Linked DNA regions of Homo sapiens: region 1 is linked to region 2. The links come from fine-mapping of genetic effects on gene expression. A gene starts in region 2. The other region holds a variant in brackets. All regions are shown on one strand. Distances are from middle to middle.

Region 1 (12,354 bases), 25 kb before region 2:
CAGGTTGTCTTAACAACACATGGAAAGCTCCTCACTGCACAGCCCCCAGATGCCTCACTCCACGAGTGAAATCCCTGCACGGCAGGCCGAGAGCGTGGGTGCAGCAGTCTGCCTGACGTGAGAGCCATGTCATCACATATCTAGAAGGTAAGGGTACCTCCGGTTCTGGAACACACAATGTAGGCACATTTCGCTGGGGGCTCCATGTACATTTCTAAATAGATACCAGTGCAGGGACCTGGCTACCCTCTGATAAGAAGGAAGTGAGGCCTGACAGAAACTGACCTTCCAGTAACCTGGAAGAGACTGCTCTGACGGAGACAGGAGATGGCTGCTCTGTGAATACACCCAAATCTCCTAGGGCAGGAGGGGCAAAGTCACCGTTCTAGGACACACCTGTGACCACACCAGGCCTCCAACAACGGAGCAGCTGGCTAAGGAACGATGTCCTGGGGCTCTGGTCACATGGAACAGACCCAGTCTGAGCTAGAGACACCCCCCAGGCCCACCAGGCATCAGCGTGGGCTCCTGCCATGCGTGGAGCTCTTCGTCTTGACAGGGTCCCTGCGCCAAGAAGGCAACAGGCTCCGAGGGGAAAACTCGAGCAAGAGAGTCCCCTGAATCGGTGCCATCTGTCTAAATTCCAAGTATGCCTGCCTGATCTACCAGGGCACTGAAGAGTTTAATAGAGAAAAAAAAAAACAATCTGTGAGCTTTATCCCAAGCACAAAACAGCCACTCAGGCGTGGGAGAGCTCCTTTCTCCCCGTGTACGCCACATGCACTCACTCTACAGGGACCACAACATCCAATTCACAGGCATGGAGGGGAAACAGCAAAATAAACAGACTTCACTTTGGAGTTGTTTTTTAGAAAGCTGCAGTTTGTGAATTTCTCTTGCTTTTTAAAACAGAATATTTCCAAAACTTGGGCATCAATGCTTGGTCTTTTTAGGTGGGGGATAGAAGACTGGGCCATCTTCACAGACTCTCAGACCCCGGCTCTCGGCGGCCCCATTTGCCAGCCAGACTTCCTGCTTGGGGGACGGCTGCTCCCCCGGCTCGGTGCAGTTTTGCAGCTGCTGGTCTTGCTTAGTGAGGCACAGTTCTATCTGACCAATTGTCTGTACTTCCTCATCCTAAAAGTAAACAATGAAAGACGCTTTAGAATTCAGATCTTGGATTATCATCAAGGTCTTAAGATCATGAACTTTTAGAACTTTTAGAAGATAACAAAAGCAGAGGCTCCACACCACAGGTTCTAGGTTCCAAGAACGGACCCCTTCATTGAGCAGAAGGCTGCTGTGCACTAAATTGGAAGGAGTGGCCCCAGGTGACTCGCCTGTGGGCAGTGGAGCTGGGCTTGGGGGTTGGATCCCCTGGTCACCACCAGAGGCCAGCCTGGTGCCCTGGTGAAAAGCCTCTGCTTTTATGTTAGAGAAAATTAACAAAGTTACACACAGATACAACAGCACTCAACATATCTATCAAGATATTAGGAGAAGAAATGGCTTTTGTAGGCCAAAAGGGCAACAGTACCCTATTGCTAAAAGAACAGGTATATTCTTGTTAAAGATAAGCAAGAAGACAAACCCTGTCCTAGCATGCTGTCAAGAAACCATGCTTGCTCACACACAGCACATGCTCACACAGACACACATGCATGCTCACATACACAGATGTGCAGGCCTGTGCACACATGCAGAACATGCCCATATGTGCACACATACACACAGTACATGAACATGTTCATATGCACATTCACACAGAGGCACAGGCCCATGCACACACACAGCACATACCCACATGCATGTACACACACACACACACGCACATGCCCACACAGCACGTTCACATGCATGCACACATTCACACATGCACACACATGCCCACATGCATGTTCACACAGAGAACATGCACACACATGCACACACACAGCACATGCACACATGCATGTACATGCACACACAGCACATGCCCACATAATGTACACACTTGCACACACAGCACATGCGCACATGTATACTCATGCGCATACAGCACATGCACACATGCATGTACATGCACACACAGCACATGCCCACATAATGTACACACATGCACACACAGGACATGCACACACATGCACACATAGCACATGCCCACATGCATGTACACACACATGCACACATAGCACATGCCCACATGCATGTACACACACATGCACACACAGCACATGCACACATGCATGTACACACACACATGCACACACACACCACATGCCCACATATACAGACACAAATGCACAAATACAAGTCTGCCCCAGGGAACTGCATGGTGAAGACAAGGCCATCAGAAAAGTAGAACCTGTCTTCTTGAGAAAAAAAGGAAGACAAAACATAACTGTCTAACCTGGCTTGGTGGAAGGCACTGGATTTTGGGTATCACTCCATATACTCTGGCAAGGGCATCTTTAAAATCTGCAACCTGATTTTAAATACAAGTGTATTAGAAATTAAACTTCAACAGAAAAGATCTGACAGTTCTGGACTATCCTGAGCGCAACAGTGGCAGGGTCCTGGTCTCCCTTGGCTGGCAGGGACAGGACCCAGCACAGGTGTGAGAATGATGCCCCCACCTCCACCAGCGAAGCAGAGGATGCTGTCAACCTGGGCTTCATCCCCAGACCACAAGCCGCTCGCTGCGGCTCTGTTTTCCTCTCTGCTCCTGTTTCTCTGGAGAGCAGAGCTCTCCTCCTCCCAGTGTCTTTCTGGGCCCCGAGCTGTCTCACCTGAAACGCCACCTGCCACAGCCACCCTCATCCACCAACAACTACTCTGCCTTTCGCGGCCCATAAAGCTTTCTCAGCCCTGTCCACTCTGAAGTATCTCTCTCTCCCGACCCCCTCCCCACGGTGGACACATTCTCCTTCACAGAAGAAAGGCCCTGGGACCCCTCAGCTACCGGTCCCGAAACTGCAAACCTAGACCCCCCTGTGCTCCAACCTCCTCTTGGATGAGGGGCCTCCTCCTCGCTCTACTGAGGGAGTCCTCCCCCACTGCTTCTGCCTCGTGCCTTCTGACTCAAACCTCCTAGGAGGACACCTGCATCCTCTCAGCCTCGTACTCTGGCTTTGGGGGGCACCAAGCTGGGGTCACCAGCTCCAGCAGATGCCTTTTGCCCCTTGCCTCAGACACTGTCCACTCCTTCCACGAAGCTCTCCTGTGGGCCTCCTGAGCACCTGCTCCACTGACCGCCTGGCTGCCGGCTGCCATTCCTGCCCCATCTCCTTGGCCTCCTTCTTCTCCTTCACTTATGGCGAGTTTTCACTGCCTTCCATTGGAAGCTATCTTTTCCACCCCATGGCTTCCCTCCCATCCAGACCTCTCTTCCTGGACTCTGCAGAGAGCTCCAATTCGAACTGTCCATGCAGGGTCTGATCATCCTCCCCTCTTGCCAAGCTTCTGACACCAGCAAATGTCACTCCTATGGAGGCCTGAGGCAGGACCTCTGCCTCTCCCATCCCCCTGTCCCAAACGGCCAAGTCCAAGCTCCCCACACTATCCCTTCCTCTCCAGCTGCATAGCCATAGGCCCAGATTCCCCCAGCATGTGACCTACTCGGAGGGTCTCTGTGCCTAGCCTCTCCCCAGTACCACGGGGACAGCAACAAGCAAACACCCCGGCCTACTCAGAGCTCAGCGCTGCTGGAGGATGAGGTCCTCATGTCTATGGCTCCCACCCGGCCCCTTCCCAACCCTCCTGCTCTGCCCCTGAGCCCCCTCAAGAAGCAACTGGTCCCATATCTCCCAGCCCCCAGCCCCCAGCTCTGCTCCACTGAACCACTCCCCTCAGGGCCTGGGCAGGCTGCAGGCCTCCATCTCAGCAACGCATTTCCCAGGAAATGTCTGGGTCGGCAGCTCTCCTGGGTGCTCCCGCAGCCCTGATTTCCCCATAAAACAGATGAGTGGATACGTGGCTGGATGCTGGATGCAAAAGCAACAAATTTCTCCTGATGATAAATCAAACTCCTTTCAAAGGACAGGACTCCGAGTATCCACCGTGCTGTTTCTGATGCCCAAACAAGCGCCGTTCGCACCTGGAAGCAGCTCAGCAAATGTGTGGCCCCTGTGGCTTTTGCCACCCCTGTAATCAGTTCCCTGAACACCGAGCTCTGGGCAAACATGGCAGGCACATGTCCCTCATCTATTCGCACATGAGTCCAGGTGAGGACGGTGAGGGCCCTGCAAGCGATCATCTTACGGCTTCCTGGGGTTGGGGTTGAGGGGGAGTCTGGAAAGGGCTGGTAGACTCCTTCCTCAAGTCCACTGCTCCCCACACTCTGGAAAAATGGCTGCACAGGTAAGCAGACACCATGAGAGCAAAGACACTGTTGCCAATTTATTTCACAAACAGTCAAGATACCAAAATAATTGTTCAACATCCAGCCATCGCCCCAGAACTACTAAGATCAGTGACTTTCAACCTTTTTCTAAATCCACAACCTGTGATAAATACGAAAACTATCTCAAAGAATCTGATACCTTTCTCTAAGGCAAGAGTCTGCAAACATTTTCCGTAAAGGTCCACGTCGTAAATATCCCGGGATTTGTGGATGACACATCGGTCCCTACTGCAGCTACACCATGGGAGCACAAGCATCCCCAGGTAACAAAGGAGTACAATTTTGTTTACAAAAACAGGCAACCAAGAGTTGAAAACAACTACTTTTTCTTTTTTTTTTAAAGAGACGTGATCTGGCTGTCGCCCAGACTGGAGTGCAGTGGGGCGACCATGGCTCACTGCAGCCTCAAATTCCTGGGCGCAGGCAATCCTCTGACCTTAGCTTCCTGAATAGCTGAGACCACAGACACATACTATCATGCTCAGCTACTTTTACTTCTTTCTAGAGGTCTCACTCTGCTGCCCAGGCTGGTCTCGAAATTCTAGCCACAAGCAATCCTCCAGCCTGAGCCTCCCAAGGTCCTGGGATTTATAGGCGTGAGTCACCACACCTGGCAAAAAGCAACTTTTTGTATATGCTTACCAGCTAATAACATCTTGTCATGCTTAAATATCTATAGTTTCTTTTATCATAAAACAAATCACAATTTTATCATGAAAACAAACCACAAACAAATATAAGACTACGTTATAAAAGTGAATGTGACTCTTGAAACTGCAGATTCCACCTGCTCTGCCGGACCCTGGAGCACACACTTCTCACAAAGGGAGCCATGAAATCTGTGCTTCCAAATCACTGGTCTAAGCAGCCTTCAGCTCCTACTCAACATGCGCAGGAAAATAAAATGCAAATAAAATCTGTTCACATGATAACATTTAAGTAGGAAGGGGGTTTGCACTGGGGCAATTTACAGCCCATTGACTCAGAGGCTGAAACGGCCCTACTGGAGGTCCCCGGGAGAGACACACGAGAAAAGAAGCAAAAGCAAGACTTACTTGGTAGTAATTGATGGATGGTTTTATCCCCAATTTTAGAAGCACACTAAAATTTAAATTTAAAAAAGTTAGCTGTATAATGAAGGTCCACTTTGCTTTCTTGTTCTTTTCAGGTATCATATTTCATGGTAAAAATTAAGACACTCTTAAAGGAAAGTGTTTTCTATGACTTTATGCAACAAATGTGTCAACATGGACTGCAAATACATGGTTCCCAGTCCCCGCCTTCCCCACCCCTTAGCACACACACAAACTGCTCCAGGCAGG[T/C]ACCCTTTCCAGTTCCTGACTCCTTCGGAGCATGGGAGCGCTGGGGCCACCACCGAGTGGAGCTGGCACACACATCACCACCCGTTTGCCACACCTGCTTTAAAAGACAGCAATTGAAATCGGATTCCAGGCTTATCCTGGTAAACTGCATTTGGACAAATCTTTAAACACAGTCATGCGCCACATTACGACATTCAGTCAGTGAAGGCCTGCATGTACGAGGGCGGTCCCATATGACCACATTTCTACTGTGCCTTTTCTATGTTGAGATATGTTTAGATACACAAATCCTTACCATTGTGTTACATACAGGTGCCTACAGTACTCAGTAGAGTCACACACTGTACAGGTTTGTAGCCTCGAAGCAACAGGCTATACCACAAAGCATATGTGTGTCGTGGGCTGTATCAGCTAAGTAAGTGCACTCCAAGATGTTCACATGACAATTTTATACCCCATCACCAAGCAATACATAACCGTATGGTAAGTCCCTACAGCTTTCAATCACCTCCTAAAGCACTTCTACACAGAATCCTACCAAACTACCATATATAGAATTCACTTATTAAAGTATAAAGGTACACTGTAAAATTCTGAATCATTGCAGAAGAATATCCTAGTTCCCCATCAAGCCTTGGTAGAAAATTCTAGATCACGATCACAGAGTGGACACAAAGACTTAGACATCCTCTGTGGGCAATAACTTATTGTCAGACTGTCTTGGCCACAGAGTTCCTGGAACAAGGACCGAGATGCCGGACCAGGGTCCTTTCAGCCCCATCATGGCCCGAACCCACAGGACCTCGCCTACCCTAGCTGTTGGTGTTGTATGAATAACAGGTTTCAGACTTTGCAGTTAAAAAAAAAAAATGTAAACTAGCTTATTAATTTTTTAATATTTATCCTAAGTTTCGATGATCCTATTTTTGATATATTGAGTTTAATAAAATATTTTTGAAATTAATTTAACCTGTTTCTTTTTGCTCCTTTTAATGATGCTACTAGAAAATTTAAAATGACATCTGTGGCTCGTGTTACACGTCTATTGGGTAGCATGCTCCTGACTTGGGTGATCAAGGGAATACGGCAAAGAGAGAAAGATGTGGGGAAATGCAGCACCTAACCCAGCATCATGCTTTCTGCTGAGTTGAGATGAGCTTGGCACGCATCCCAGGTCTTTATCTGTGGGTACTCTAGCACGTGCCATCAGCTCATCTGTGTCTATGGGAACCCTGACAACTTTGCTTCAAGATGATTTGTGGTTTTTCAGGTTTGCTGCCTTCATATTATGAAGTGAAGAAAAACAAGCTACAATTTTTTATTCTATTTTATTTTTTTGACACAGAGTCTTGCTCTGTGGCCCAGGCTGGACTGCAGTGGTGCGATCTCGACTCACTGCAACCTCCGCCTCCTGGTTTCAAGAGATTCTCCTGCCTCAGCCTCCTGAGTAGCTAGGATTACGTGCACCACCATGCCCAGCTAATTTTTGTATTTTTAGTAGAGACGGGGGTTTCACCATGTTGGCCAGGCTGTTCATGAACTCCTGACCTCATGATCCACCCGCCTTGGCCTCCCAAAGTGTTGGGATTACAGGCGTGAACCACTGTGCCCAGCCTGTTCCAGTTTATGATAATTTGAAAAGCCAACCTATGAGAAAAAGATAATTTGTGATACCAGTTTACAAGGAAAAATGAGGGGTCTTAAATTTTGACTTCTTAATTTAATTTTTAGATTAAAATGAAGGCACTAAGAATTATAGATTTCCCTTGGAGAAACTAAGAATATAATTTTCCTATAATTGTTCTTTATAGGTTTTAGCAAACATACTCTCAGTAGTGCTTTGCCCTGGCAGGCCCTCAGTGAACATTTACTGAATGAATGAATGAATGAATGAATGGAGGACGCACCATTCCCATCTACAGCAATGGCAGGGCAGCACTGGGCTCTGCTGAATCCCCACAGGAACTCCAGGACTTAGAGTTTTGCATGTGTCGTGTGTGTGTGTGTGTGTGTGTGTCTCAGTCTGTCTAGTGTCGCTATACAGGAATACCTGAGGCTGGGTAATTTATTTAAAAAAAGAGGTTTTTTTGGCTCAGGGGTCTGCAGGCTGTCCGAGAAGCATGGAACCAGATTCTGCTTCTGGCAAGGGCCTCAGGAAACTTCCGCTCATGGCAGAAGGCAAAGGGGAGCTGGTGTGTACAGAGATCACATGGCCAGAGAGGAAGCCAGGGGTTGGGGGCGGTGCCAGGCTCCTGTTAACAACCAGCTCTCTGGGGAACTGAGTGGGAACTCGCTCACCCCTGCAAGGGGGCATTAACCTACTCATGAGGGATCCTTCCCCGCAGCTCAAACACCTCCCACCTCCACACTGGTGATCAAATTTCAACATGAGATTTGGTGGGGATAAACCAACCACATCCAAACCATAGCAGGAAAGCTACTGAGTTTCAACGAGTGTAAGTAGGAGCCACTTAATAAACTATTTGTTGGATACAGAGATGAATTATTTAGATGATTGATTTTAAAATTTTCAGTAGTATCCATTTATCCTTTCTCTGTTTGATTAAATGAACTGGTTTATGGAGTCAGCCTGGAAAACACCAGCACTCTGCAGCAGGGTCAGGACTGTGAGACCCCTGTTTTGAAACAGAGGGCATCTTTCTTGTCATCTCCAAAGTGGGTCCTACCCTGCCAGTCTTTCAGCAATGTCAGACTTTCTTTTTAACTGCAAGTCTCCTGTGCTCCAGGAGCTACCTAAGACACTCTCTTGGTTAATCCTCATAATGACTTTTTTTTTTGAGACAGTTTTGCTCTTTTCGCACAGGCTGGAGTGCAATGGCACGATCTCAGCTCACTGCAACCTCCACCTCCTGGGTTCAAGCCATTCTCCTGCTTCAGCCTCCCGAGTAGCTGGAATTACAGGCATGCACCACCACACCTGGCTAATTTTTGTATTTTTAGTAGAGATGGGATTTCACCATGTTGGCCAAGCTGGTCTTGAACTCCTGACCTCTGGTGATGCACCCACCTCAGCCTCCCAAAGTGCTGGGATTACATGCATGAGCCACCACACATGGCCCATAATGATTTCTGAACAGCTAATTAGCTACATTTGTTAGGTGAGAAAATGTTTCCTAAAATATTGCTCTTACTGCAAGAAAGCAATGCTTCCTTTATTAAAAACCTAAGATTAAATTACATAGATCAAATTATATACACAAACTATATACAAATCAAAGTGTATAGGTCTGTGTACGTTTCTTAGTGTATATACCTGGTAGTGCAGATTTTAAGAGCTGGAAGAGACTTCAGGGTTGAGGGCAACCTATCCATTTATTTCACAGCATGGAAAAAAGAGCTAGAGGTTAGATACACAAATTGTACAACTAGTTAGTGTCAGAACCAGGATGAAAAGGCACACCTAATGCCACGCGCTCTGGGAGGTGATTTTTAAAGAAGTTTATTCACAGGGCATTCTTTGATGTAATCTTGATCCCCGCTAACCGTGCCAAGCCCCTCTTCTATCAGTGCCTGAGCTCTATCCCACCCAAGTTGCAGCTGTTAGACTGCGTTTCATCAGATGACACAGGAGACCATCTGTGTGAGACGATTTTGTACGTTGAGGAGGCAAAGCACATGTCTAGATAAGCAATGGAGGTTTATTCATCTTTTAAGCAGTTTTGATTCAGAAACCTTAAATACAGCTGATTAGCTAAGGCTCCTGGTATTATTCTGATTTGAAGGAGAATTGCTCTAAAACAAGCTGCGTGAATTCCAAAAGCAGCAACACAGAGGCTGTGCAATTGCCTGTCATGTTTTTCACGACTTCACTGGTTTATTATGACCTCTTATGATGAAGGTCAGTGAGAGCAGCTAAGACGCTGACACCCTGAAACGTCCCGACGGAGAGGTAAGGGCACACCCTGGCTCTCTAGCAACCAGATTCGGACAGTGAGTGGGCTCGGTGTGGCGCTCAGAAGGCACTTTGCTTTACAAGTCAACTGGCTCAAGTGGGACAACGTATTCCACTTCTCAAGAATAGAGGTGAGGGCAGGCAGGGACGATTTAGGCAGGTTGGGGTCATTTCTGGGGCTTAAAGAACCCTGGCCCACATCTCTTTCCTGCCTGCTTGTTCCAGGAGTTCTGCGGCAAAGACCTACAGACTTCCAGAGTTTCCGTCTTTCTAAGGAAACGACTTATTAATGCACTATCCTTTATCAGGAATCATGGCTGAGAACGGCACATGCTGGTTGGAGTCCTCGTTTTCCCTATGGCCGACTCTGATGATGAGATGGTGCCCAGATGGGCATCCCAATACTCTGCACCCACTCTGTGTGATCGTGATGTAGAATGATCTGGAAAGGCTTGGTAGGCTCAGAACATTCCTCAGGAATGATCCCAGTAGCCGAATAGTGCACATGCAGAAGCTGCTGGAGGGCAGTGAGGTCTACACCCACTCCCCTGGATCCAGCTGTCAGGCTTGGGCGACAGCAGAGATCCCCACTGGGAAGTGCAGCCGGGGGAAGGGCGCACCCACCTGTTGAGGTCCAGCTCCCTGTAGAGTTCCAGGCTTCTGCCAAAGTACTTCTTCTGGGAGTTGAGCGCATCCACCTGGGCGGCGCAGGTCCCATGCTTTTCCCACTCATGCTTCCTGTGAGGATTAGGAAAAATCTCCACTTAAAAGTAGTGAAACAGGCTGCGTGCAGTGGCTCATGCCTGTAATCCCAACACTTTGGGAGGCTGAAGGGGGTGGATCACCTGAGATCAGGAGTTTGAGACCAGCCTGACCAACATGGTGAAACTGTCTCTACTAAAAATACAAAAAAATTAGCCGAGTGTGGTGGCAGGTGCCTGAGATCCCAGCTACTCAGGAGGCTGAGGAGGAGAATCGCTTGAACCCGGGAGGCAGAGGTTGCAGTGAGCCAAGATCATGCCATTGCACTATAGCCTGGGCAAGAGACAAACTCCATCTCAAAAAAAAAGTAATGAAACTGATTCCCAATTAAAATGCTCAAGCATGTTTTCTCTCAGCACAGACTATTCCCATGTGGTAGGCATGTCATTTCTTTTACAAAGTAGGAAGGATAAAATTCCTTATTTGCAACATAGGCAATTATTTCAATCCCCCACGATTAAATAATCAGTTTCAGTTCACGTCTACAATTACAGCTTGCTCAATTAACAACAAATCAAAGCTGAGAAAAAAGAACATGCTGCTGCCCCAACCCCCACTGATTCACAAAGCAACGTGTGGTCTCCTGCAGTGAGTGGGTGCTTTGCAGTCAGGGAATTTCGCAGAGTGGCACAAACTGTCATTTCTAAGCAACCAGCCATGGAAAGGCAGGACAGCTAATTACCAGGAAACACCTCAGGCCCATTTTCCATTTCAGCTTCTACAAATTATAGTTTAAGCATCCATTCTACATAGAGGACAATAAGAACAACTGAATAGCCTATAACTAAAGGGCTGCACGTGAACAGCAATTTGTATTCCAGAAAAATGTGGTCACTGAGAATGATTCCTGATATTTTACTGCAGATTAAAGGTTTACAAAAATCTTTCACGTTCTTCGTTTGGTTCTCAAAACTCTGCAAGGCGGAAATATCACTGCTAGTTTACAGACAGGGAATGGAAGCCCAGAAGGGCCAGGGGACTTGCTGAAGGTCACTCAGAGCCTGCCCTTGAAGGCCACGCTCAAGTCCAAGGTCAGCGCCCTTCCCACTGCACTGGGCTGTCATCCAATCAACTGCTGACGAGATTGACAGCCACCTTCAGAATGACTGGCGTGTCATCAGATGTTTATCATCTTTAGCATGAAAAGACAAAATGGGAATCAGATTTCCTCAGCTTTATTGGTGATGAATTCATGAAGTTTTAATAAATAACATTCATGCAACCACTTATAAAGCACTTATATGCAGTCTTAAAAACACAATCTAAATGTGCATTAATTCACTGGCAAAATTCATCCAAAATACTAGTTTTAAATAATTCCTATTGATTTAACTCTCAGAAAATGATGAAAAGTTGAAAACAGGAACGATGAAAGTGGATGAGTAACTGTCTTCATCTAGAAGCCTTTCCAGAGCAAATTACCTGATAACTTCCTATATCCTATAAGGTAGAAAAAGGAGATTATTTTAAACTAATTGAAATGTAACCTGAATTCCAGGTGACTTAGTTTCTATAAAACAGGGGTAATTCTGCAGGTGAGATGAGGTGTGCTGAGCCCTTCCACATGAATGAAAACAGTTCCTGGCTCACAATAAACAGTAAATGTCAGCCATCATTATTCCTGGAGCAAGCTTAACTCAACAGATGTTGGAAATAGATTGATATTCATGGAGCTCACAGCATTCACTCACACTTCATTTGGACTGGACCTTTTTTTTTTAAGCATCAGAACGGTCAGTCACCAATGCGAAGTGACTCAGCGTGTTGCCCTCTGTGCTGAGAGACACCCTGACTCACCCACCAAGAGCAGATGCAGCCAGGAGCGGATGTCCCAGGCTCACCCACCCACTGTCACCCAGCCCGCTCGGCCACAACAGGCAGCCAGTCCTCGGGGCTGGTTATGCCCAAAGACACATTCCACAGCAGTGCTGTGACACCTTCCCCTGCCCAAGGAGCAGAGGTGGAGAAGCCAGAGG
Region 2 (12,099 bases):
ATGCACATGGAAAAAGCCAGCAGCAACACAGGATATAAGTCAAGCAGACACTTCAGGATAAATCAAATTTTAGAAGGGAAGATTCCAAGTAAGAAGATCAAGTTGTCACACATTAGCTTTTGTAAATAATTGAGTCCTGTTGAATTTGTATAGAATTTACAGTTAAGATGGTATGAAAACTTAGTTGTACATTGGAACTAATTATGCAAGCTCTCAGTATAAAAGGAAAAAAGGGTTCAAGCGTGGTGGCTCACACCTATAATCCCAGCACTTTGGGAGGCAGAGGCAGGAGGATTGCTTGAGCTCAGGAGTTCAAGACCAGCCTGGGCAACATGGTGAAACCCTGTCTCTACAAAAATTAGCCAGGTGTGGTGGCATGAACCTGTAGTCCCAGCTACTTGGAAGGCGCTGAGGCAAGAGGATAGCTTAAGCCCAGGAGGTGGAAGATGCAGTGAGCCCAGATCACATCACTGCACTCCAACCTGGGCTACACAGCCAGACCCTGTCTCAAAAAAAAAAAAAAAGGATGAGCTGCAGGGTGAGAATTGGAGCTGGTAAAGCATTTTTTACCCTTGGGTGAAAAACCTTATTTTACATAGTCGGAACCTGAGGCTGGAAAGCTTAGCAACACCCAGGAAGATGAGACTATCAATATGCTTACAACAAAACTACCAAGACTCAGACGTTTGTAACAAACTCTCCATCTAAAACCAGGCAGAGTGATGTGACTGCAGGAGACCCCCTCCCACACAGATGCCCCCCTCCCCTATTCACGGAGAAAGTAATGGAGAAGCTAAAGAAAGTCAAAGAAGAAAGAAAAATCACCAAGGTCTCAAAACCAGTTAGAACTTGGGAAAATGCCCGCTGACCTATGAAGCCCTCGTGGTCTGAATCAACCATGTTCTCGCAAATCTTGCCTGCTCAAGTTTGTCCGATCATATCAGTTGCATGAATTATGGGCTGGGGTGGGGGATCCACATATGACAGCCTGTTTTATGCTAATGTTTACTTCCAGCCAGACATCATTCCAAGTTACATTCTGTACCTTAACTGATTTCTCCTGAAGCCAACTCTGTGAGGCTGACTGTTACTATTTCTACTTTACAGATGAGGAAACTGGGGCATAGAGAGCTCAAAGGTCCCACACCTGGGTGTGAACTAGCAGTTTCCACTCAGCCAGCAAGGGCCAGCATGCCACAGACTTCCCCAGTGAGAGGCTCTGAACCTCATGGCCAATAAATAAGGACATAAATGTAGCTCTTTTTCAGAAAATACACTTTCCGGAACACTGAAATATAATGCTACATTTTAATGTACATGATTAAAAATATATACCTAAGGTGTTTAAAAAGTAAAACCCTGGCCGGGTGCAGTGGCTCACGCCTGTAATCCCAGCACTTTGGGAGGCCGAGGCGGGCGGATCACCTGAGGTCAGAAGTTCGAGACCAGCCTGGCTATTAAAAATACAAAAATTAGCCAGGCGTGGTGGTGTGCATCTGTAATCCCACCTACTCAGAGGCTGAGGCAGGAGAATCGCTTGAACCCGGGAGGTGGAGGTTGCAGTGAGCTGAGGTCACGCCACTGTACTCCAGCCTGAGTGACAGAGTAAGACTGTCTAAAAAAAAATAAATAAGTAAAACCCACCTTTTCCACACCTACTATGTAAGTAAGAAATCCTATTAACCCGATCATTACCCAAATAGAAAGAAATAATATGGTATTCAAATATTGGTATCTTCCACAGAATTAAAGTTGGAGTTCTTTGCAGCACCGCCTGTTTACCCCTAATTAATTTGGGCGGCTGCCACACACACACACGCACACACGCACGCACACACGCACGCACACACGCGCACACACGCACGCACGCACACACACGCACACACGCACACACACACACGCGCACACACGACACACACGCACAGACGCGCACACACGACACACACGCACACACACGCACGCACGCACACGCACACGCACGCACACACACACGCACACACAAACGCACACGCACACACACACACGCGCACACACACACGCGCACACACACACACACGCGGAGGGCGAGCCAAGGGAAGGGATTCAGAACAGGATACTCAAAAAGAGGAAGAACCGTCGTTTCACCACCCGCCGCAGTGAAAGCTGAAATTAAGTGTCCCCTCCACGACTTCTTCGACCTCTGAGAGAACTTCGAGTGCAGGAACAGTGCTCCACCAAGCCTGCCACCTGCTTTGTCGCGTCCTAGGCTGGGAGCAGTCTGTGGGATGAGTTTCCAGTCCAGCTCCAGGCTGGAGTGTACCCAGGACCTCACCCTACCCCCTACTCCTTCCCAGGGGTCACCCCGGGGAGTGTTCAGGGCTCCCCAACCCACTTCTTCCCAGGAGTCACCCCAGAGCGTGCCCAGGGCTCCCCCCAACCCACTCCTTCCCAGAGGTCACCCCGGGGCGTGCTCAGGACTCCCCTCATCGCACTCCTTCCCAGAGGTCACTTCTGAGTGTGCTAAGGGCTCCCCCCAACCCACTCCCTCCAGGGGTCACCCCGAGGCGTGCTCAACTTCCCAACTTCTTCCCAGGGGTCACCCCGGAGCGTGCTCGGCTCCCCCCGCCCTCCCCAGTCGCTGCCCGGGGCTCAGCGACCGCCGACCCCGAGAGCTGCAGCCTTCACCCAGTGGAAAGCTCTAGGGCCCGGCTCCCACGCTCCCCACTTTACCTCGCAAGGTAACTCACCGCAGGCGCTTGTCCGCACCGCCCAGGCAAAGCAACGCCAGGCAGAGGCAGCCCAGCAGGGCCCCGCGCAGGGCTGCAGGGCGCATGGTGCCGACCTGCGGAGAGAACGCTGCCAGCTGCCGCTCCGGCTCCCACTTCCCACCTGCTGCCCGAGGAAGACTTCCGGGAGAAACGCTGTCTCCGAGCCCCCGCGCCGCCGCGCTCCCTCCGCTGCAGCAGCGGCCACCGGGTGCGCCCGGAGCCCTGGGACGGCCTAAACCAGTATCTCGCGGGCCCCGCGCCGGGCTCCGGGAATGGCCGCAGCAGCCCTGGCGACCCGGGCCCCTCGGAGCTCCCCTTCAGGATCGTGCACCAAGCGCGCACGTCCCGGGCTCTGCTTCGCGACCCACAGCGACCCCAGCTCCTCCACGCTGCAGCCGCCGTCCGCCCACGACCACGGTCAGTCGCGTTGCTCCCAGCCCAGGGCGCCCTGCGGGCCTGCACCGGAGCAGAGAGCCACGCCCCCAGGACGGCACGCCCCCGCCGGTGGACACGCCCCCCAGAACGGCACGTCCCCGCCCGGCGTTCACGCCCCGCCCCGTGGTTGGCTCAGAGAGGCCGAGGCAGGAGCAGCTCCGCGGGCCTTGAGGGCGTGTCAGGCGGCTGTGTTCCTTCGCCACGCAGGCGCCCCGCGCCTTTTCCCGCAGCTCTGCGCCACTCCCACACTCCCGGGTCCGAGCTAACCTAGACCACCCGTGAGGACCGCCCTCGGGGGGACCGCCCGTGTCTGCGCCATCCCCCGCCAGCAAGTGGGCGTGCGGGCCCCAGGGCCACTCTACTCTCCAGGGACAGCCCCCAGCCCGACCCGCGCACCCTGCAGGCCCGCGGTCCGCACGCAGCACCCGCTTTCAAAAACTGCGCCCTGCAAGCTGCCCGGGAGCTCCTGACTGCAGATGGTGCTTGGCCGCCCAGGCTCCCCGCAGCCTCCCGCCACCTCGGCGCTCCACTGCGCAGCCCGAGGGACGGCTCCAGAATTAGGAGGGGACCTACTCGGGTCACTCTCCTGGAAACCTCTCCAGTCTCCCGGTGCTAGGTGCTGGGAGCACCAACATTCCTAGAAGGGCCTGGCCCTCACCCAGCCCTGGGCCTCACCTGCCCCTCCCCGCGGGCCCCAGGAGCCCGGAAGTCATCTCTGTGGGGGCAGCAAAGAGCCGCCTCGGGGCGCGACCTGGGAAGTCATCTTGTGAGGGATCCCCTCCCAGAGGGACGGGCCACCCCCCACGGATGAAGGGGACTTCATGTCAGCCCCACCTTGGCGTAGCCAGGGCCAGTCCCATAGGCCCGGTCTCCTCCCCCAACACCCTGGCCTTCCCAGCCCTTCAGAGGCACGGGTTCCCCTGCACCCGCGGCCCCGCCCACGGGCTGTGCACCCGGCATTGTCTCTGCAGATGTTTCTCCTCTTTCCCTTCCCTGTCCGCACACCCACAGCTAGTTAAGGCTATTCCTATTTACACGTCGAGTAAACTGCGCCTTCCTCGGGGTCCTCTGCCACTGGTAACTGTCTAAATAGCAGGTGGGCCTGTAGCCTGCTCTCCCACAGGCCTGGACCTTGCCTGCATGCATTACCATTCTTTGAAACAAAATATTTAAATGATTAATCTGTTTTTCCCACTAGACTGCAAGGCAAGGCCCATGTCTATTTTGCCCACCTTGAGTCCCTGCCACTGAGCACAGTGGATGGGGGACAGTCGGTGCTCAATAAAATGCCACCTGTGGAACAGATGGGGGGGGAAAATGGCTGACACCTCCTTAGCTCCTCCAGGACCTCCTACAGGTCATGGTGTTATTCTCGTTCTCCTTTTCCCTAACGACTTATTTGTTTCTTTCCGGCTCCTTTCATTCCTTCCTCTCAAGAATATAGGCACACGCCACAGTTCTTTTTCTCTTTTCTTTTAAGCTAAAAAAATAATTTTCTTAAAACAAAAGTGCTTCCCAGAATCCTCATTTTCCTTTAAATCACAGTCCGGTGTGTTTAAACAGCCCCTTGTCAAGGAGGGCTGTTGTGACCACTGCCAAATATAAAGCAAATCTGGACTCGGGGAGGAGTGGTGTTATGAGGACCATTATTGCAGGGGCCTGGGGGCCTTTTGTCCCTACTAAAAATACAAAAATTTGCTGGGCGGGGGTGGCACGCGACTGTAATCCTGTGGCAGGAGGAGCGGCAGACAAAACCTCTCAGACACCGAGCTATAGAAGGAAGGGCTTTATTCAGCTGGGAGCATCGGCAAGCTACTGCCTTAAAATCCGAGCTCCCCGAATGCACAATTTCTGTCCCTTTTAAGGGCTCACAACATTAAAGATTTCACATGAAAGGGTCGTGATTGATTTGAGCAAGCAAGGGGTACGTGACGGGCTGCATGCACTGGTGGTCAGAGAGAAACAGAACAGGGCAGGGAGTTTCACAATGTTCTTCTATACAATGTCTGGAATCTATGAATAACATCGGTCTCTAAGTCATGAGTTGATTTTTAACTACTAGGTTTAGGCCAGGCAGGCCCAGGTCCGGTTTTGGGCCTGGCGCCGGGCTGCCTGTCTTTGATTTCACTTCCTTGTTTTTTTCTTAAAACAGGTACTGAGTATAAAACAATATAAAACAATATGAGAGGGTCTCTCTCTTCCCTCAATCCCAGCTACTCTGGAGGCTGAGGCAGGAGAATCGCTTGAACCCAGGAGGCAGAGGTTGCAGTGAGCCGAGATCGCGCCACTGCACTCCAGCCTGGGCGACAGAGTGAGACTCGGTCAACAACAACAACAAAAAGAATGAATGAAAGAAAGAAGAAAGAGAGAAAAAGAAAGAGAGAGAAAGAATGAACTGGGAATGGAGAAGTGGGATGAGAACCTGCCTTCATAGGACATTAGATCAGAGAAGGTTGACCCCGTGGCCAGCCTGTTCTCAGGGGGGACTGACTCAGGCTAAGATGAGGCCAAAAGTCCTCAGCCTCGGGGGAAGAGAGGAGCCTCACCAAGTTTGCTTAACAAGTGTGTTATTTCTATTGACTGGCTCATCATTGATGAGGTGAAGAATGGGAATTGGAGGATCTGTGTCTGGCTTTGTCCTAGGTAATGGGTAGGGGGTGGAGTGAGGGGAGCATCCGTCACTTTTCCTTTTTTTTTTTTTTTTTTTGGAGACAGCGCCCAGCTGCATCACTTCTATCACTCTTACCTATGTTATGTGGGGAAGAAGGGGGTCTCTCGCAGCAAGCCACTTTCCACAACTCACAGAGAGGAGATTTTTATCAGATAAATTCAGCAGCGTCCTACCCAGCCTGAAGAAGCCACCCAGTCATTTCCTGTTGCACTTCCTTGTTTATTTTCGACACAGTTCTCCCCACCCCTGAGAATTCTTGTCACTTCCTCCTGTACTGCCCACTTCTACTCCCCCACCCCCACATCGGAAGCTAATGAGGAGCTTCAGGCCCCTTGCTGGCATGGGCCCCACCAAGACCCCATATCTCATTCCGTATTCACAATTTTACCTTCTTGTTCTTAAAGAAGGACATCCAAATGGAAAAGCTCTCAACCCCCCAAAACTTGGATGTGAACCTGGAGCATCTGTCATCTGTCTTGTTCACTACTTGTCCACCTACCAGGATCCTAAACGGAACCCTACGTAGGGAAGAGGCAGTGGCTGTAAAGGCTGGATTTGGGTCTGGAAGCCGCCCAGCTTTACGAAAACAAAGAGGGCTCCAGCATCAAGCAGGTGGGCAGGGGCCAGAGTGGGAATTACATTGACTCACACAACATAGTGTAAAAGGGTACAAACTATGAGGTTTAAAAGATGCTGCTGGCTTGTATAGAAACATGTCCTTAGGAGAGGGGAGGGGGACAGGATGGCAACAGCCATGTCTATGAACAGACATCCTTAAATCCTTGTTAATTCTGAAGAGACCAAGATACTTTCACCACACAACCTCTTCTTGGCATTAGCTCCAGGTTTCCTGTTTCCATGCCAGCTTTTGCTGGGTTATGCTACAATAATACACCGCCCCCAAATCTCAGTGTCTCACTTAAACGGAAGTTGATCATTTATCATTCATTTGCCCATATTCCATGCTGGCTATGCGTCAGATGCCACTGTGGTCCACGGTATTTTTCACTCTGGAACCCAGGCGGTAGGAACAGCCCATATCTGGTGCTGGCCATTCCAATGGCAGAGCAGTGGCACAACTACACAGTTTAGGATTCTCATGCTCTAAAGAGCTTTGTCACACTTGAAAGAATCTCACCTTAAAAACTCCTTTCCATCCTGAATTACTTATTTGCTGAGAAAGTGAGGCCAGCTGCTGGGTGTTTCCCTGCCCTTTCTCTTCTTTTTCTTTTTCTTTTTTTTTTTTTGAGACAGAGTCTCACTCTGTCAGCCAGGCTGGAGTGCAGTCAGTGGCACAATCTCGGCTCACAGCAACCTCCGTCTCCCAGGCTCAAACAATTCTCCTGCCCTAGCCTCCCGAGTAGCTGGGATTACAGGCGTGTGCCACCACGTCCGGCTAATTTTTGTGTTTTTAGTAGAGACGGAGTTTGACCATGTTGGTCAGGGTGTCCCAGCACCTCTGGCCTTGCCATGCCAGCCTGGCCACTGTGGTACACATTTTGTGGAACTCTTTTATTCTGAGCTGTGGCCATGACAAAAGGAGGACAGGAGAGAAACAGAAAAGACCAGTCATGTGTTTCTCACAATATAATTTGTTCTTCAAGTGTGACTTAACTGATGGAACCAGAGGGAAAAAACTTTCTGGAACTAGACAATAAGAATAAATCAGATCAAATAGCATGCTATTATGAAATGTGAAGCAAAGCAATATATTACATTTAATCATGGATGTCAAATTTTCAAAGCATATTTACTCTGAAAAAGGAAAAGAAAAAAACCCATGAGCTTACACACACACTCACATGCACACACATACACACACATGCACACACATACTCCTATACACGTGGATATTAGGCTGCTTACTTGAGCTGTCTTACAATTATTTATCTTAAAAAGATAAGCAAGGCATTTTAGACTTCTGAGATTTTACTACATAACTGAGCTGCTTTACTTTAGATAAGCCCTTCTGCATTACAAATAATAGTTTAATATTACATTAACAGTTAATTTTGGCTGGGCTCGGTGGCTCACACCTGTAATCCCAGCACTTTGGGAGGCTGAGGCAGGCTGATCACCTGAGGTCAGGAGGTCAAGACCAGCCCTACCAACATGGTTAAACCCAGTCTCTACTAAAAATAAAAAAAAAAATTAGCCAGGCGTGGTGCCAGGTGCCTGTAATCCCACCTACTTGGGAGGCTGAGGCAGGAGAATCGCTTAAACCCAGGAGGCGGAGGTTGCAGTGAGCCGAGATGGCGCCATTGCACTCCAGCCTGGACTCCCTCTCAAAACAACAACAACAACAATTTAATAGATATTTAATAAGTATTTTTTAAAAAAATAATTTCAACTTTTATTTTAAATGTGGGGGTACATGTGCAGGTTGGTTACACGGGTATACTGCGTGATGCTGAGATTGGGGGTATGTTCATCCTGTCACCTGGGTAGTGAGCCTAGTATCGTATAGTTAGTTTTTCAACTCTTGCTCTGCTCCCTACCTCCCTTCTGTAATAGTCCCCACTGTCTACTGTTGCCATCTTGTCATCCATGGGTAACCAGGGTTTAGCTCCCACTTACTTATTTGTTTATTTTTTGACATTGGAGTCTTGCTCTGTCGCCCAGGCTGGAGTACAGTGGCCTGATCTCCGCTCACTGCAACCTCCGCCTCCTGGATTCAAACAATTCTCCTGTCATATCCTCCTGAGTAAACTGAGATTACAGGCGAGGGCCACCATGCCTAGCTAATTTTTTTTTTTTTTTTTTTTTTTGAGACGGAGTCTCGTTCTGTTGCCCAGGCTGGAGTGCAGTGGTGCGATCTCGGCTCACTGCAAGCTCCGCCTCCCGGGTTCACGCCATTCTCCTGCCTCAGCCTCCCGAGTAGCTGGGACTACAGGCACCTGCCACCATGCCCAGCTAATTTTTTGTATTTTTAGTAGAGACAGGGTTTCACCGTGTTAGCCAGGATGGCCTCGATCTCCTGACTTCGTGATCCTCCCGCCTCGGCCTCCCAAAGTGCTGGGATTACAGGTGTGAAATACCATGCCCGGCTGCCTAGCTAATTTTTGTATTTTTAGTAGAGATGGGGTTTCACCATATTGGTCAGGCTGGTCTCAAACTCCTGACCTCAAGTGATCCACCTGCCTTGGCCTCCCAAAGTGCTGGGATTACAGGCGTGAGCCACCGTGCCCAGCCTAGCTCCCACTTTTAAGTGAGAACATGTGGTATGGTATTTGGTTTTCTGTTCTTGCATTAATTTGCTTAGAATAATCCAGCTGCATCCGTGTTGCTGCAAAGGACATGATTTCATTCTTTCATTATGGCTGTGTAGTATTCTATGGTATATACATACCACACTTTCTTTGTCCAGCCTACCATGGATGGGCACCTAAGTTGATTCCATGTCTTTGCTATTGTGAATAGCGCTGTGATGAACGTGAGAGTACATGTGTCTTTTTGGTAGAATGATTTGTTTTCTTTTGGATAGATGGCCAGTAATGGGATTTTTCCTGGGTGAAATGGTAGTTTTTTTTGTTGTTTGTTTGTTTTGAGATGAAGTCTTGCTCTGTCGCCCAGTCTGGAGTGCAACGGCATGATCTCGGCTCACTGCAACCTCCGCCTCCCAGGTTGAAGCGATTCTCATGCCTCAGCCTCCCGAGTAGCTGGGATTACAGGCACCCGCCACCATGCCCGGCTAATTTTTGTATTTTTTAGTAGAGATGGGGTTTCACCATGTTGGTCAGGCTGGTCTCGAACTGCTGACCTCAGGTGATCCACCCGCCTCAGCCTCCCAAAGTGCTGGGATTACAGGCGTGAGTCACCGCGCCTGACCATGGTAGTTCTTTTTAAAATTCATTGAGAAGTCTCCAAACTGCTTTCCACGGTAGCTGAACTAATTTACATTCCCACCAACAGTGTAGAAATGTTCCTTTTTCTCCACAGCCTTGCCAACATCTGTTGTTTTTTGAGTTGTTTTTTTTTTTTTAAACAGGGTCTCACTTTGTCACCCAGGCTGCAGTGTAATGTCGTGAACATTGCTCACTGTAGCCTTGACCTCCTGTACTCAAGTAATTATCCTACCTCGGCCTCCCGAGTAGCTGGAACCACAGGTACACACCACAGCGCCTGGCTAATTTTTTAAAATTTTTTGTAGGCTGGGCGAGGTGGCTCATGCCTGTAATCCCAGCACTTTGGGAGGCCGAGGCGGGCAGATCACCTGAGTTTGGGAGTTCGAGACCAGCCTGACCAACCTGGAGAAAGCCCATCTCTACTAAAAATACAAAATTAGCTGGGCATGGTGGTGTGTGCCTGTAATCCCAGCTACTTGGGAGGCTGATTCAGGAGAATCGCTTGAACCCGGGAGGCGGAGGTTGTGGTGAGCCTAGATCATGCCACTGCACTCCAGCCTGGGCAACAAGAGCGAAACTCCATCTCAAAAAAAAACAAAAGTTTTTTTGTATAGAGATGAAGGCCTCACCATGTTGCCATAGCTGGGGTTTTTGACTTTTTAATAATAGCCATTCTGGTTGGTGTTCTGGTTTTGATTTGCATTTCCCTAACAATCACTGATATTGAGCATTTTTTCATATGTTTGTTGGCTGTTTGTATCTCTTCTTTTGAGAAGTGTCTATTCATGTCTTTTGCCCACTTTTTAATGAGATTATTTGGTTTTTGTTTGTTAAATTATTTAATTTTATGGTAGATCCTGGATATTAGACCTTTGCCAGAGGCAGAGTTTGCAAATATTTTCTCCCATTCTGTAGATTGTTCACTCTGTTGATAGTTTCTTTTGCTGTGCAGAAGCTCTTTAGTTTAATTAGATCTCACTTATCAACTTTCATTTTTGCTGCAATTGCTTTTGAGGACTTGGTCATAAATTCTTTCCAAAGGTCATTGTCCAGAATGGTGAGTCCTGGGTTTTCTTCCAGGATTCTTATAGTATGAGGTCTTTTAAATCCTTAAACCATCTTGAGTTAACTTTTGGTGAAAGATAGGAGTCTAGTTTCATTCTTCTGCATATGGTTAGCCAGCTATCCCAGCACTATTTTTCGAATAGGGAGTCCTTTTCCTATTGCTTATTTTTGTCAACTTTGTGGAAGATCAGATGACTGTAAGTATGTGGTATGCTGCTTCATTTCTGGGTTCTCTACTCTGTTCCATTGGTCTGTGTGTCTATTTTTGTACCAGTACCATGCTGTTTTGTTTACTGTAGTCTTTTTTTTTTCTTTTGAGATGAAATCTTACTCTGTGGCCCAGGCTGGAGTGCAGTGGTGCAATCTTGGTTCACTGCAACCTCCGCCTCCTGCCTCAGCCTCCTGAAGCTGAGGATTCTCCTGCCTCAGCCTCCTGAGTAACTGGGACTACAGGTGCGTGCCACCACACCTGGCTGATTTTTTATATTTTTGGTAGAGACGGAGTTTCACCATGTTGGCCAGATGGTCTAGATCTCTTGACCTCGTGATCCGCCCAAGTCAGCCTCCCAAAGTGCTGGGATTACAGGCATGAGCCACCGAGCCCAGCCTACTGTAGACTTATAGTATTGTTTGAAGTTGGATAGTATGATATATCTAGCTTTGTTCTTTTTGCTTAGGATTGCTTTAGCTACTCAGGCTCCTTTAGGTTCCATATGAATTTTAGGATAGTTTTTTTCTAATTCTGTGAAAAAATGATGTTGGCAGTTTGATAAGAATAGCATTAAGTCTATAGATTACTTTGGGCAGTATGACCATTTTAACAATATTGATTCTTCCAATCCATGAGCATCAAATGCTTTACTCTTTGTGTCATCTATGATTCCTTTTTTTTTTTTTTTTTTGAGATGGAGTCTCGCTCTGTCACCAGGCTGGAGTGCAGTGGTGCAATCTCAGCTCACTGCAACCTCTGCCTCCCAGGTTCAAGCGATTCTCCTGCATTAGCCTTCTGAATAGCTGGGACTACATGTGTGCACCACCATGCCCAGCTAATTTTTGCATTTTTAGTAGAGTCAGGATTTCACCATGTTGGCCAGGATGGTATCGATCTCTTGACCTCGTGATCTGCCCATCTTGGCCTCCCAAAGTGCTGGGATTACAGGAATGAGCCATCACGCCCAGTCTCATCTATGATTTCTTTCAGCAGAGTTTTACAGTTTGCCCTGTAGAGATCTTTCACCTCCTTGGTTAGATGTATTCCTGGATATTTTATTGTTTTTGTGGCCATCATAAATGGAATTGCTTTTTTTTTTTTTTTTTTTTTGAGATGGAGTCATGT

The links. PIP is the estimated chance that this variant, and not a neighbour inherited with it, causes the effect.
Region 1: its variant is fine-mapped to the expression of RNASET2 in nucleus accumbens (GTEx, PIP above 0.99). The same link has a PIP of 0.9 or more in whole blood.

The regions. Positions count from the first base shown.
Region 1 is chr6:166,928,655-166,941,008 of GRCh38, forward strand. It overlaps RNASET2 (ribonuclease T2), which reads right to left. Exons shown (of 9, transcript NM_003730.6): 6 at 10,241-10,354; 7 at 5,437-5,482; 8 at 2,390-2,464; 9 at 1-1,137. The coding sequence ends at 934. Among named protein-coding and RNA genes, the nearest start is that of RNASET2, 22 kb to the right of the region's middle. RefSeq lists an enhancer at 12,241-12,354. The variant T/C (reference allele first, on the strand shown) is at 5,704.
Region 2 is chr6:166,953,371-166,965,469 of GRCh38, forward strand. It overlaps RNASET2 (ribonuclease T2), which reads right to left and starts at 3,180. Exons shown (of 9, transcript NM_003730.6): 1 at 2,727-3,180. The coding sequence starts at 2,812. RefSeq lists silencers at 2,946-3,705, 3,746-3,845, 4,116-4,165, an enhancer at 5,130-5,249 and a cis regulatory region at 5,930-6,216.